Linked DNA regions of Homo sapiens. The protein of the gene in region 1 purifies or fractionates together with the protein of each later gene. This does not show direct contact. Each region holds a gene or a part of one and is shown in the gene's direction. Other genes may lie near its edges.

Evidence for each region.
Region 2: the proteins of TMEM266 (region 1) and TGFBRAP1 purify together in Homo sapiens (affinity purification with mass spectrometry; 2 studies listed by BioGRID and IntAct, with this or other methods). This does not show direct contact.
Region 3: the proteins of TMEM266 (region 1) and EDRF1 purify together in Homo sapiens (affinity purification with mass spectrometry, with the first as the bait; one large-scale study listed by BioGRID). This does not show direct contact.

Annotation. Positions count from the first base shown.
Region 1 is NC_000015.10:76,058,502-76,062,866, forward strand, and holds the start of TMEM266 (transmembrane protein 266), read left to right. Parts: upstream 1-1,483; 5' UTR 1,484-1,515; intron 1,516-1,653; exon of another isoform or gene 1,654-1,739; intron 1,740-4,365. UniProt on the Homo sapiens protein: Voltage-sensor protein present on the post-synaptic side of glutamatergic mossy fibers and granule cells in the cerebellum. Despite the presence of a voltage-sensor segment, does not form a functional ion channel and its precise role remains unclear.
Region 2 is NC_000002.12:105,305,733-105,309,380, reverse strand, and holds part of TGFBRAP1 (transforming growth factor-beta receptor-associated protein 1), read left to right. Parts: intron 1-1,062; 5' UTR 1,063-1,079; coding exon 1,080-1,767; intron 1,768-3,648. UniProt on the Homo sapiens protein: Plays a role in the TGF-beta/activin signaling pathway. It associates with inactive heteromeric TGF-beta and activin receptor complexes, mainly through the type II receptor, and is released upon activation of signaling.
Region 3 is NC_000010.11:125,740,099-125,743,746, forward strand, and holds part of EDRF1 (erythroid differentiation-related factor 1), read left to right. Parts: intron 1-364; coding exon 365-553; intron 554-902; coding exon 903-1,103; intron 1,104-2,121; coding exon of another isoform or gene 2,122-2,141; exon of another isoform or gene 2,142-2,816; intron 2,817-2,959; coding exon 2,960-3,178; intron 3,179-3,648. UniProt on the Homo sapiens protein: Transcription factor involved in erythroid differentiation. Involved in transcriptional activation of the globin gene.

The DNA of each region.
Region 1 (4,365 bases):
GCAATTCCAAGAGGTGGTTTTGAAGTCCTTCAACTCTACCATTTTCATTTTATCCATACTAAAAAAGCTACGGCAGGAAGAAAAGACAAAGGACATTCCTGGGAGGCCAACTGGACCTAATCAAATAAAAACACTTTAGAAGAGGTACAAGAATCAGAAATCAAACCTATCTGCAGAGCCAAAAGCCATTCTGAAACTCCGTGTCCTAGAAACAAGGGTTTCCCATCTTTTCAAATATTTTAAGATAAAAATCGCAACACCCTATAGGAAAATGGCTATATTTTTAGCAAGAATTGGTGGAGAAGACAAACGATAATAAGCTACTATGAATCCAGAAGCTGCTTAAATGGCCGTATTCACAGCAGCCCTTGCAAACATTAATTAGAGTAGTACCCATTATGGGTGAGGACTTTTTTTTTAACCACAGAGAATATCTGTGGGTGCATCCAGATTGCTCAGTGGTTCCGTTTAACCCACCCGGTAACTGGCAATCATGGCCCTAGGACAGGCTTCTCCACCGGGGCGATGCTGCCTCCAAGGGGCGCAATGTTACTTTTTATGCATCAAGCACGGATAACACATACAGCACATAAGCAGGTCGACAGTGTATCTGCGGTACTGGGATTTCACGGGGAAAGGAGATGGGGACGTGTAAAAAGCCTTTTTAAGAGTCAGATAACGAAAAACGGAAAAAGAGGAGAAACACGGTCCTACAAGGGTCCTGAGCTGAGGCCATCAAATGAATGTACTGACAGGTATTTTTCTCCCAGGCAGCCAACTGAGAGTCAAGGCACTCTGACCGTGCTATGACTCCGGCCACACAGAAAGAGGTGTTTTCCCCTCGGTGGCCTCCAAGCGCAGCGGGCACTGCGTGCCATCCGCTCCCTCACCGGGCGCCCCGCGCGGATGAAACGGAGCAACTGGGAAAGAGCTCTGGAAACTGCAAAGCGCTGCGCCAAAGCGACGGGAGGTTCCCATTCTCAGCTGTACGAAATCCCGCGGGGGTCCTCCGCTTCCCCGAGCGACGCCCTCGGCCTCCGCACTTGTTGCTTCTGCGCCCCGCCTGCGTCCCCGTCAAACCCACCCTTCGCGGCCCCCTCGCCTCTCCACACGCTCGCACTCAGGCCCCGACCCTGCCCCGCGACCCCCTCACCCACGCCACGAAGCCCGCTCTGCGTGGCAGCCCCGGAGACAGCCGAGCCCCCGCCTCCGCCCCCTGCCCAGCTCAGGCCGCCAGCCCCTGCCAGCCGACGCCGCGGTTTCCTAGACAGCCGCGCCGCCGTTCCGCAGCCTCGGGGGCGCGCGCGCGCGGCCGGCGGGAGGCGAGGGCGCAGGCGCGGGCTCGGCCAAGCCGCCGGCGCGAGGCCTCGCGCGCGCCCCCGAGCGCGGTGGGCGGAGGGGCGGAGGGAGCGGCGGGGCCGCGAGGGGGCGGGGGGGCGGAGAGGGGAGCCCCGGGAGCGCGAGCCGCGGCCGGCGCCGCTGCAGAGCCGAGCGAATCCCGAGCCCGGGCAGCAGGTATGTGTCCTCGCAGCCGGCCGCGGCCAGAGCTTCCCCTGCCTCACTGCCCGAGTCTTGTGGTCGGGGCGGGGGGTGGGGGGACCGGTCAAGGTTTGCAGGATGCGTGCTCGGAAGGGCTGGGATCTTGCCGCTGACCTTCATCCCCCTGGCCGGGGGAGCCAGGCGAGGGTGCGTGGGGCAGCCCAGGGCTTCAGCTCCAGCCTGGAGACCTGCTTCTTGTCACATGCTTCTTATTTATTTTTGCAAACTGCCCTGGTTCGGGTCCAGCTGCAGATGCCTTACCTCCCATTCTTTGCCTCCGTGTGCCATCTTGCATTTATTAATAAAACATGCAAGCTGGAGGGGGGGGTTGCTGCTGGGGGGAATCCCATTGCAGTATGGCAAGCGGGCGCCTATTTTCGGTTTTCAGACGTGGTATAGAGGTGGAAATCCCACACCCTGAGGATTTGTGGCTTGGTTGGTCGTGACCACTTCCTAGTGGGCTTCCCCCGTTTGTCGGGAGGTGCCCCAGCGGCAGAATGGGCTGTCTGGAAGGGATGGTGGGTCTTCACCGTCAGGCCAGAATCCCCTTCAGGGGACAGGTGCAAGCTAGGGCAGGCAGTTCCCTGCTTGCTAACTTGCCAGGGAGGCTTAAACCTAGAAAATTGTCTCCCTTGATGGCCGAGAAAAGATGGCCTTCAACAGAATCCCTGGGACTTGCATACTCAAACTCATTACGGTTTTGCATCTGAACATGACTAAAGCTAGCCACCTGTTGGAAGTCAGACCCCATGAAACACCCCCGTAATCTAGCTCACCCATCCCTGTTTCACAGTCACCAATACTGAGCTAGCAATAGGCCCATATGGGTTCCCTCTATCCTCTTTAATGCTGCTTGGCTTTTCTTTTAAAATAAGACCTACCTATGATTTGATGCCCTATATGTGAGAGGTTGAAATTATATGATTTGTTTATATTCCATACACCTATCACATCATATCCTAAAGACTGAATTTCTCTTCAGTGCATGTGTTTATTTCCCTGGCTTTTCACCTTGCTTTGAACAACAGTGGGAAAATGGGATGTATATAACTGCTTACCTCCTCCCCCAAATACCTCCACCCTAAAATATTGTGATGAAAAGAATAGTAAGAGCTAGAAGCAAAAAATGAAAATGGTTATCACAAGATGTTGGGATATGATAGCTGAACCGTAATTGCTTCTAAAATGGTCAGAGTGTCACATCTAATCACGAGAAGGACATGTTTCTTAAATGTTCATATGTACCAGGTACTGAGCTAAAACTATTTGTGTATGAGCTCATTTAGTCCTCACAGCAAACCTGCTATGTCCATGTTGAAGATGAACAAGCCAGGACTTAGAAAGGTTAACTAACTTGCCCAAGGTCACACAGTCAGGGACAGGGTAAGGATGCAAACTCAAGCACATGGGGATACTGGAGGTGGGGAGCCCTGAGGGGGCTTTTCCTCCAGGTGCGGCTGCTCCGTGTACCTTTTCATTAAAATCAAGCTTATGCATGAGCATGTTGGCTTGGGTCTAATTTTCCATTTCATAGATTCTGCACCAACTTTGTGGCTTTCCAGTAAGAAAAGCAGTTGTTTCAGAATGGATCAGTATGGAATTTTTTGAGGTGGCACTAAACCTATAAAAAGTGGGGTCCAAGATGTGCTTCCATTTAATTCTCACACACAAGGAGTTGAGTTTAAAAAGTTGTTTCCCTCCAGATTTAAACCCATAAAACGTATATGCATTAAGTAGAATGAATCACTCCCATTTTCCATTATCGCATCCCACCCTACCCTCCTTGCTGCCCTTCACACTATCTTCTGGTCTCACTGCCAGTCATCAGAGCAACATTGTCTATCACACTTGCCTGTGAGTGCCTTAATGGGAGGAAGGAATCCATCCGTACCAGCCGTGGCTCGTAATCCAGTCTCTCTATGATTGTAGCAATTATGCATTCAAAGTTCTTGGAATCTCTGCATTCAGCTATGGATGTGTATTTAATCATTTTTTTAAAGTGCATTATTATAATGCAGGTATTGGATTTTGTTAAACATTCCTAGCAGTTCTCATGGACTTAGAAATTGCTGTAGTTGCATCAGTGAAAATTCACCCAGTGGGGCTAATAGCTTTTCTACTCAGGTCACATAGTTGAGATAGTGGTGAGAAAGGTATAGGTGAATAGAAGGAATTATTTGGAAAGTATATCCCATGCAAATAACAGCTTTTAATTATAAATTGATGAATAATATTAAGTAGGAAATATAAGACTATCTCTTTTAATTTTATAAGCTCTGTTTTTGCCTTGGTCAATGTGATTGGTTTTAGAGCAACATGATGTTACCTTTTTCATTACACTGTTCTTTTGAAACAGTATAGCGGTTTGTACATAGTATTCTTGCCTCGTGGGAAACACTCAGTTTAGGAGGAGCACATTCCCTGGTGTTTACAGAAATGCTGAGACAGGATCTTTCTGTCTTGGGGATTTCCAGTCTATGATCAGATAAACTCAAGATGAGTCCTGATGTTACTGGGCAAGAAGCAGAAAGCAAGAGGTGTTACTTGATTTCTGGGGAGGAAATGAGTTTTCCTGTGGGGAGCATCACTATCTTCTTCAGTTGGGAATCTCATGATTGAAGAGTTTGAGAAACGGACTAGTCTGCTGTCTTCCATTCAAGCAGGATTTCATTTAATGCAGAGCTGAGAAGGCTTTATCGTGCAAAGGCCAATTCAGGAAATATAAAAGTGTTTCTGGACTACTTTTTTTTTCTCTTAAAACATATATTTAAACTGGGAAAGTCATATGGGAAACTATTAATGCTTAAGCATTATTTGTTTTTATTC
Region 2 (3,648 bases), on another chromosome or scaffold:
AGTGATAGCAGCCTTTCACTTCAAGCTCTCTGAACATGCAGCAGTGCTGACGCAAGCCCAGCCAGCTGCCCTGCAGCTCCCGTCATTCTCTGCAGTCCTCTTTCCAGCTCTCTGATCCCCTGCCCTGCTCCCGCTCACAGGGACTGTGCCTTTGAGTTTGCTTCTGGCTGCCTGAGAAGTCAGAAAGGCCACCTTGCCTGATCTTCTCCCTGTGACTTTGTGGAGTGTGAAGCCACAGTTCTCTGCAGAAGATGAAGTAGGAGGCGACGGGCTAGTGTGTGGGAAAGTCTCACTTCCAATGGGAGCCAGGGACCGGTCGGTCCACACATCCACTAAATAGCTCCACTCACCATCTGAAAGCCTTTCGAGATCCGAGGCACACCTTTACTCTCCACATGAATACATTTACTCCGGAGCTGAGGCTGATGCGCCTGCCTTATTGGGAAGAACACAAAGGAATCCAAGGCCTGGCGTCTGCCTCGGTGTTCCTGGCAGGATCCTGTGACTGTGGTTGTGTTCATTGACTAAAGTGCATATTCAAGTAGCTGTAGAAACTCAGGGAAGATCAGTGAGGATCATTTCTGCCTTTTTCAGAAATCCTTTTTGTTTTTTTTTTTAAATGGGGTCTCATTATATTGCCCAGGCTGGCCTCCAGCTCCTGGGGTCAAGCCATCCTCCTGCCTCACAGAAATCCTTTTGTTATGTTGCCCGTGGGTGAATGCATGCATTTGTCTTCTGCCTTCAAGCGTGTCTCCCAGGAGCAATGTGAGGAGGCTCCAGGTGACTCTGTGTGGGGACTGAGCAGGATGGCACGTGATCACAAGCACATACATATGTGTATATGGGTGTGTGTGTGTGTATGTGTCTGTGGTTTTCTTCTTGGGTCTTCTGCTGTCTGATGGGGGAGGTCTGTGGGGAAATGGTTTCTTTCCATTTTTTGATAGCGTGGAATGACTTTCTTTAATGAAAATGACAACTAGGGAATCCACGTATCATTATTGCAGCCTCTGTTTCTGCTTCTTCCTTGTTCCTCTAAAATTAGTTTTCCTCTTTCTCTTCCAGCAGATCAGCCAGTAGACATGATGAGCATCAAAGCCTTTACGCTTGTCTCTGCTGTGGAGCGGGAGCTGCTGATGGGCGACAAGGAGCGCGTCAACATAGAGTGCGTGGAGTGCTGCGGCAGGGACCTCTACGTGGGCACCAACGACTGCTTCGTCTACCACTTCCTGTTGGAGGAGAGGCCAGTGCCTGCTGGGCCAGCCACGTTCACTGCCACCAAACAGCTGCAGAGACACTTGGGCTTCAAGAAGCCCGTGAACGAGCTGCGTGCGGCCTCAGCACTCAACAGGCTGCTGGTGCTGTGTGACAACTCCATCAGCCTGGTCAACATGCTGAACCTCGAGCCAGTGCCTTCGGGGGCCCGCATCAAGGGGGCAGCCACGTTTGCACTGAACGAGAACCCTGTGAGTGGGGACCCCTTCTGTGTAGAAGTTTGCATCATCTCTGTCAAACGCAGAACCATCCAGATGTTTCTGGTGTACGAGGACCGGGTGCAGATCGTCAAGGAGGTGTCGACTGCCGAGCAGCCCCTCGCTGTGGCTGTGGACGGCCACTTCCTGTGTCTGGCTCTGACCACTCAGTACATCATCCACAATTACAGCACAGGCGTCTCCCAGGACCTGTTTCCCTACTGCAGTGAGGAGAGGCCGCCGATCGTCAAGAGGATAGGGAGACAGGAGTTCCTGCTGGCGGGCCCCGGAGGGCTGGGTGAGGAGGATGCATTTGTGCGCCTGATCTTTTTGGGTGGCCTCGGTGACTGCGTGTTGAAACTGGAGAGTGAGATTGGCGCTGTGCAGAATAAATCCTCAGTGACATTGGGCGTGTGTGGCAAGACAGAGGTAGCAGTGCTTGACCAGTGCTTGATGAAATCCAGTTCGATTGTTCTGTGAACGTGGGGTTGGAGTCATAAAACCAGTTTCTTTCACATTAAAGTGGAGCTTGAAGACAGCTCTGGTGGTGTTACCGGGAAGTGGGGATATTCTCAGCCCTTAGTCATCTTGGGAGAAAGATTTTGGCCAAGAGACAATTCAGAGATAGCAGAGAGCTTTCTGAAGGGAAATAGAGAACAGAGAATTTATATGGAGAGAGACAGTACGTTCTGAAAGATGAGGCAGAGTGGGATGCTGAGAGAGTGAGCCAGCAGCCCTGAGAGTTCTGCATCGGGTTTTTATGATGCTGGAGTTTTTCTTGAAGTTCCCACCTCTGTCTTAAAGTTTCTGCCTTTTTCCTTTGTCTAGTTTTCCCGCTTCTGCCTTAAGTCCCCACCTTTTCCTCCCACCTAATTTCTACTCTAAGCTTGTGGGACCCTCTCTTACTAGTAGTTGGTGCACATGTACAGCCGGTGTTGGATGTGAATCCCACCTAATGGCTGCATTGCTCATTACCTCCACCCCAGGAAGGTTGTACAGCGGTTAGGTCCATACTTACTGCACCTGAATGTCTCTTTGGAATTTCTCCTTTACCCTCTTTCCCTCCTCTCTGCTCATATCTAGCATGCATGTTTTGTTTGTTTGTTTTGTTTTGAGACAGAGTCTCGCTTTATTGCCCAGGCTGGAGTGCAGTGGCACAGTATCGGCTCACTGCAACCTCTACCTCCCAGGTTCAAGCGATTCTCCCTGCCTCAACCTTCCAAATAGCTGAGATTTCAGGCATGCACCACCATGCCTGGCTAATTTTTGTATTTTTGGTAGAGATGGGGTTTCACCATGTTGGCCAGGTTGGTCTTGAACTCCTGACCTCAAGGGATCCACCCACCTCGGCCTCCCAAAGTGCTGGGATTACAAGCATCAGCCACCATGCCTGGCCAGCATGCATCTTTTTGATGGTCTCTGGGATGTGGGATTTTCCAGACCTCCCTTTTCTCAGGGGCTCTTCCCTCCCATTCATGTCTAGCTAGCTATCTACCCACTCTTAACAGTGGGAAAATTCTTTTAAGTAAATAACTACAAAAATAACTCTGGGCTGGGCGCAGTGGCTCACGCCTATAATCCCAGCACTTTGGGAGGCCAAAGCAGGTGGATCACCTGTGGTGGGGAGTTCGAGACCATCCTGACCAACATGGAGAAACCCTGTCTCTACTAAAAATACAAAATTAGCCGGGCATGGTGGTGCATGCCTGTAATCCCAGCTACTCAGGAAGCTGAGGCAGGAGAATTGCTTGAACCCAGGAGGCAGCAGTTGCGGTGAGCTGAGATCACGCCATTGCACTCCAGCCTGGGCAGCAAGAGGGAAACTGTCTCAAAAAAAAAAAAACAAAAAACAAAAAACAAAAAACCAGAAAACTCCGTAAGGGTTCCTGGTAAGATTTTCCCACAAGAGTGGGTTGTCATTTGATTGTTTTTGCTCCTCATTCTAAAAAGTTGTTGAGGCTGGGCTAGGTGGCTCACGCCTGTAATCCCAGCACTTTGGGATGCCGAAGCAGGCAGATCACCTGAGGTCAGTAGTTCGAGACCAGCCTGGCCAAAAGGTGAAACCCTATCTCTACTAAAAATACAAAAATTAGCCTGGTGTGGTGGTGGGCACCTGTAATCCCAGCTACTCAGGAGGCTGAGGCAGGAGAATCACTTGGGCGGAGGTTACAGTGAGCTG
Region 3 (3,648 bases), on another chromosome or scaffold:
CATGTTTGAGGACAGGCTTTCACGCTGATCTAAGCTGTGCTTTAGGAAGGTAAACTTTGACAGGTTGACACATAGACTGGAAAAAGGAGACAGGTGTCACTCATGAGGTTAGCTATGTCAGTGACACTGGAAGAGAATGACAGAGTTGCCGATGTCAGGGAAGCAGAAGGCCTTAGAACTCCCAAGTGAGAGTCTTTTAACACGGCCATTTCACTCCAGTGTATTTAAGCAGTAAAGCATAGTATTTACCAGTCTTGTCACCTAAGTCTAGAGTGTTTCCATCAAGAAACAGAAAATATTTTTTGTGCATGAGACTTACAGTCAAATGAAATGTGCTGTCTTTTTTTTTCTCTCCATGTCACAGTGGGCTCCCTTCAGAAGGGCAATTATTCCAGTCAATCTGGAATGATCCCTGGCTCTTGGCAACATAAAATGAAACTTCAGCTGATTCTCAAGTCATCAAAGGCCTATTATGTTTTGTCCGATGCTGCCATGAGTCTTCAGAAATACGGAAGAGCATTACGATACATTAAATTAGCTTTGCAAAGCCATGGTAAGCCACTATAAATGAATATGTTTAATAGGCACTGGGAAGAGAGAACAGAGAAGGCATCTGAATCACAGTGGAAGTTTACTCCTATTTTTCTAGTAAATCTTTATTTTAAAATGACTGTTTCCAATCCTGTGTGTGTTACCTTCTATTTTAGTTTCTGCTCAGTGGTTTAACATCTCTTTGCTTTGAACTACATGAAGCCGTAATATGTATTGTTGGACCTAAAATAAACAGAATAGATACAGTGCTACAAAGCGTTCAGCTGGTAACACAGTTTCTTCATATTTCCTATGATCATTAATTTTTTTCTGCATTTGTGTTTTTTCTTCTTCCCTCCCTTTCTAAACAGATACTTATTGCTGCCTCTGCACCAATATGCTTTCCGAAGTGCTGTTGTTTCTCTCTCAATATTTGACACTTTGTGGTGATATCCAACTAATGCTGGCCCAGAATGCAAATAATAGAGCAGCACACCTTGAAGAGTTTCATTACCAAACAAAAGAAGACCAGGAGATCCTGCATAGCCTTCACAGAGAGTCCAGTTGCCAAGGTGTGCCACAGGCTTGGACCACGTGGTTCACAGTGGGACTGTGCAGTCTAGCTCATGCTTATTTGAGTATTCAGAAAAGGGGTAGAAATATTAGAGTTTTGATATTTGCTCTGTATTTATTTATTTATTTTTTGAGACGGAGTTTCGCTCTTGTTGCCCAAGCTGGAGTGCAATGGTGCAATCTTGGCTCACTGAAACCTCCGCCTCCCGGGTTCAAGCAATTCTCCTGCCTCAGCCTCCCAAGTAGCTGGAATTACAGGCATGCGCCACCATGCCCGGCTAGCCCACCTTGGCCTCCCAAGGTGCTGGGATTACAGGTGTGAGCCACCACGCCTGGCCTGCTGTTTTATTCATTTCCTAATTTTAAGATTAAGCATGATCTTGTGTATTTGTATAAAATGGTTTTTAAGTATTTTATAATTACTGTTTATATAACTAGAACTAAATATAAAGTAAGATATGAAGACAGTTGTGTCAACTTTTTATTTTATTTTATTTATTTATTTTTTTGAGACACAGTCTCGCTCTGCCACACAGGCTGGAGTGCAGTGGGGCAGTCTTGGCTCACTGCAACCTCCACCTCCTGGGTTCAAGTGATCCTCCCATCTCAGTCTCCCAAGTAGCTGGGACTAGTACATGCGCCACCACACCTAGCTAATTTTTGTATTTTTGTTAGAGACAGGGTTTCACCACGTTGCCCCAGACTGGTCTCAAACTCCTCAACTCAAGCGATCCTCCCACCTTGGCCTCCCAAAGTGCTGGGATTACAGGCACGAGCCACTGCACCCAGCCTTGTGTCAGCTTTTTACACTCTTCTTTTCATGAGGTTCTTCTAGGTAACACTTGTAGTCAGCTAACAAAGCCATAGGTTTCCTTTTGAAAGGTATAACAGTTGGTGAAGGAGGTTAATTAACCTTCTGAATGATTCCTTGGGGCTGAAATAAAGTGATCATTGTTTTTAAAGTTAGTTCATAGCCACCTGTCTTGCTTAATATGTCACTCTGTTTGGAATTGTCAGGCTTTAAAACTGGGAAGTAGAATAATCTGATCCGCAGCAGCGATATCCCTCCCTCTTACCTCAGCACAGTGTGTAACCACGCTGCCATTAACACAGTGAATGAAGTAAAAGATGAGTCTTCTGAAGGTGCTTCTGTAATGTCTCATGGGGTTGTTTTATTATGCTCTTAAATTGTTATACTGAATATTACTTGATGTTTGCCTCCCAGAGTTTTAGACAATTCATAGCTAGAGGAGTATACTGGGGGAGAGGGAAAAATGTGTTATTTTGTAATAGTTTTGCCCTTTCTTCCCCTCTCTCCGTCTTTCTCAAATAATCATGTTTTAATGTAGTAGGAAAGTCCTTGGTGTATTTTTACTACTCCCATCATAGCAATTTCAGTTAAATATTCTTTTTACTCTAGTCCCCACTAGATGGCATTTTTAATCTTCGAGGGCTTCTGTAGCAGCCTCTTCAGTGACTTAAAGTTAATATTGGGACATTATTTCAAGAACTATTTCCATTAGTTAAAAATAGCAACTTTACTTTGTATTAGTGGACAACTTTAGGTCCATTCTAATAAACAAGTGTACCTGGGAAAACCTGGGTCACAGAAATTGTTTGATATTCATAGGCAGGAAAATATTTTTATCCAACATTAATATCCCAAGAAATATAATTTTATAAATAAATAGATCTTTATTATGAAACTTAAATATTGTTGTATTGATTGAATCTTGGTATACTTACACTATATTGCATTTTTTATTACTTAGAATTTAGAATCTCAGGTTCATTTGGATACTGAGGAAGAAGGAATCACATGATTCGCATTGATGTATCCCTTTTTTCTTTTCAGGATTTGCATGGGCAACTGATTTGTCTACAGACTTAGAAAGTCAACTCTCTGTTAGTTGTAAATGTTATGAGGCTGCTAATGAAATCTTGCAGTTTAGTGACTTGAAAAGCCAAAATCCAGAACACTATGTACAAGTATTAAAGAGAATGGGTAACATTAGAAATGAAATTGGTGTGTTTTACATGAATCAGGCTGCTGCATTACAGAGTGAGAGACTAGGTGAGTATCTCTTTAGATTCCTCTCTATTGCTTGTTCTCTCAGAAAATTATGCTAATTTTGTATGAGTCAAGCAAAGAACTGTGGCACTTGATTTTATATCATAAAGAGGTGCTCTATTAGAGAACCTCTTATTATTCTTAAGAAATAGAATTAGGAACACATGATTTTCCCTTGGAATGAATTATTTCAATGTTCTTCATTCTTACTTTTGTACTCACTCCATCTGATCAATTCAGAAGCAAATGGGACATCCAGCCATGTGCCAGGCTCTATGTTGGATATGTAACTGGCTAAAATATGGTTCTCTCTTCATGTTGGGAAGCTAGATAGGAACACAAAGCCTCAAAATGCTGTGGATGAGTACCGACGAAGTATAATGGGAGACTGGGGAAATAAGACATTTATGGAGGTTATAAGTTAGAAGGCTTTTGGGAAAGTGTTGTTGAGCAGGGTGATGCAGGATGTGTAG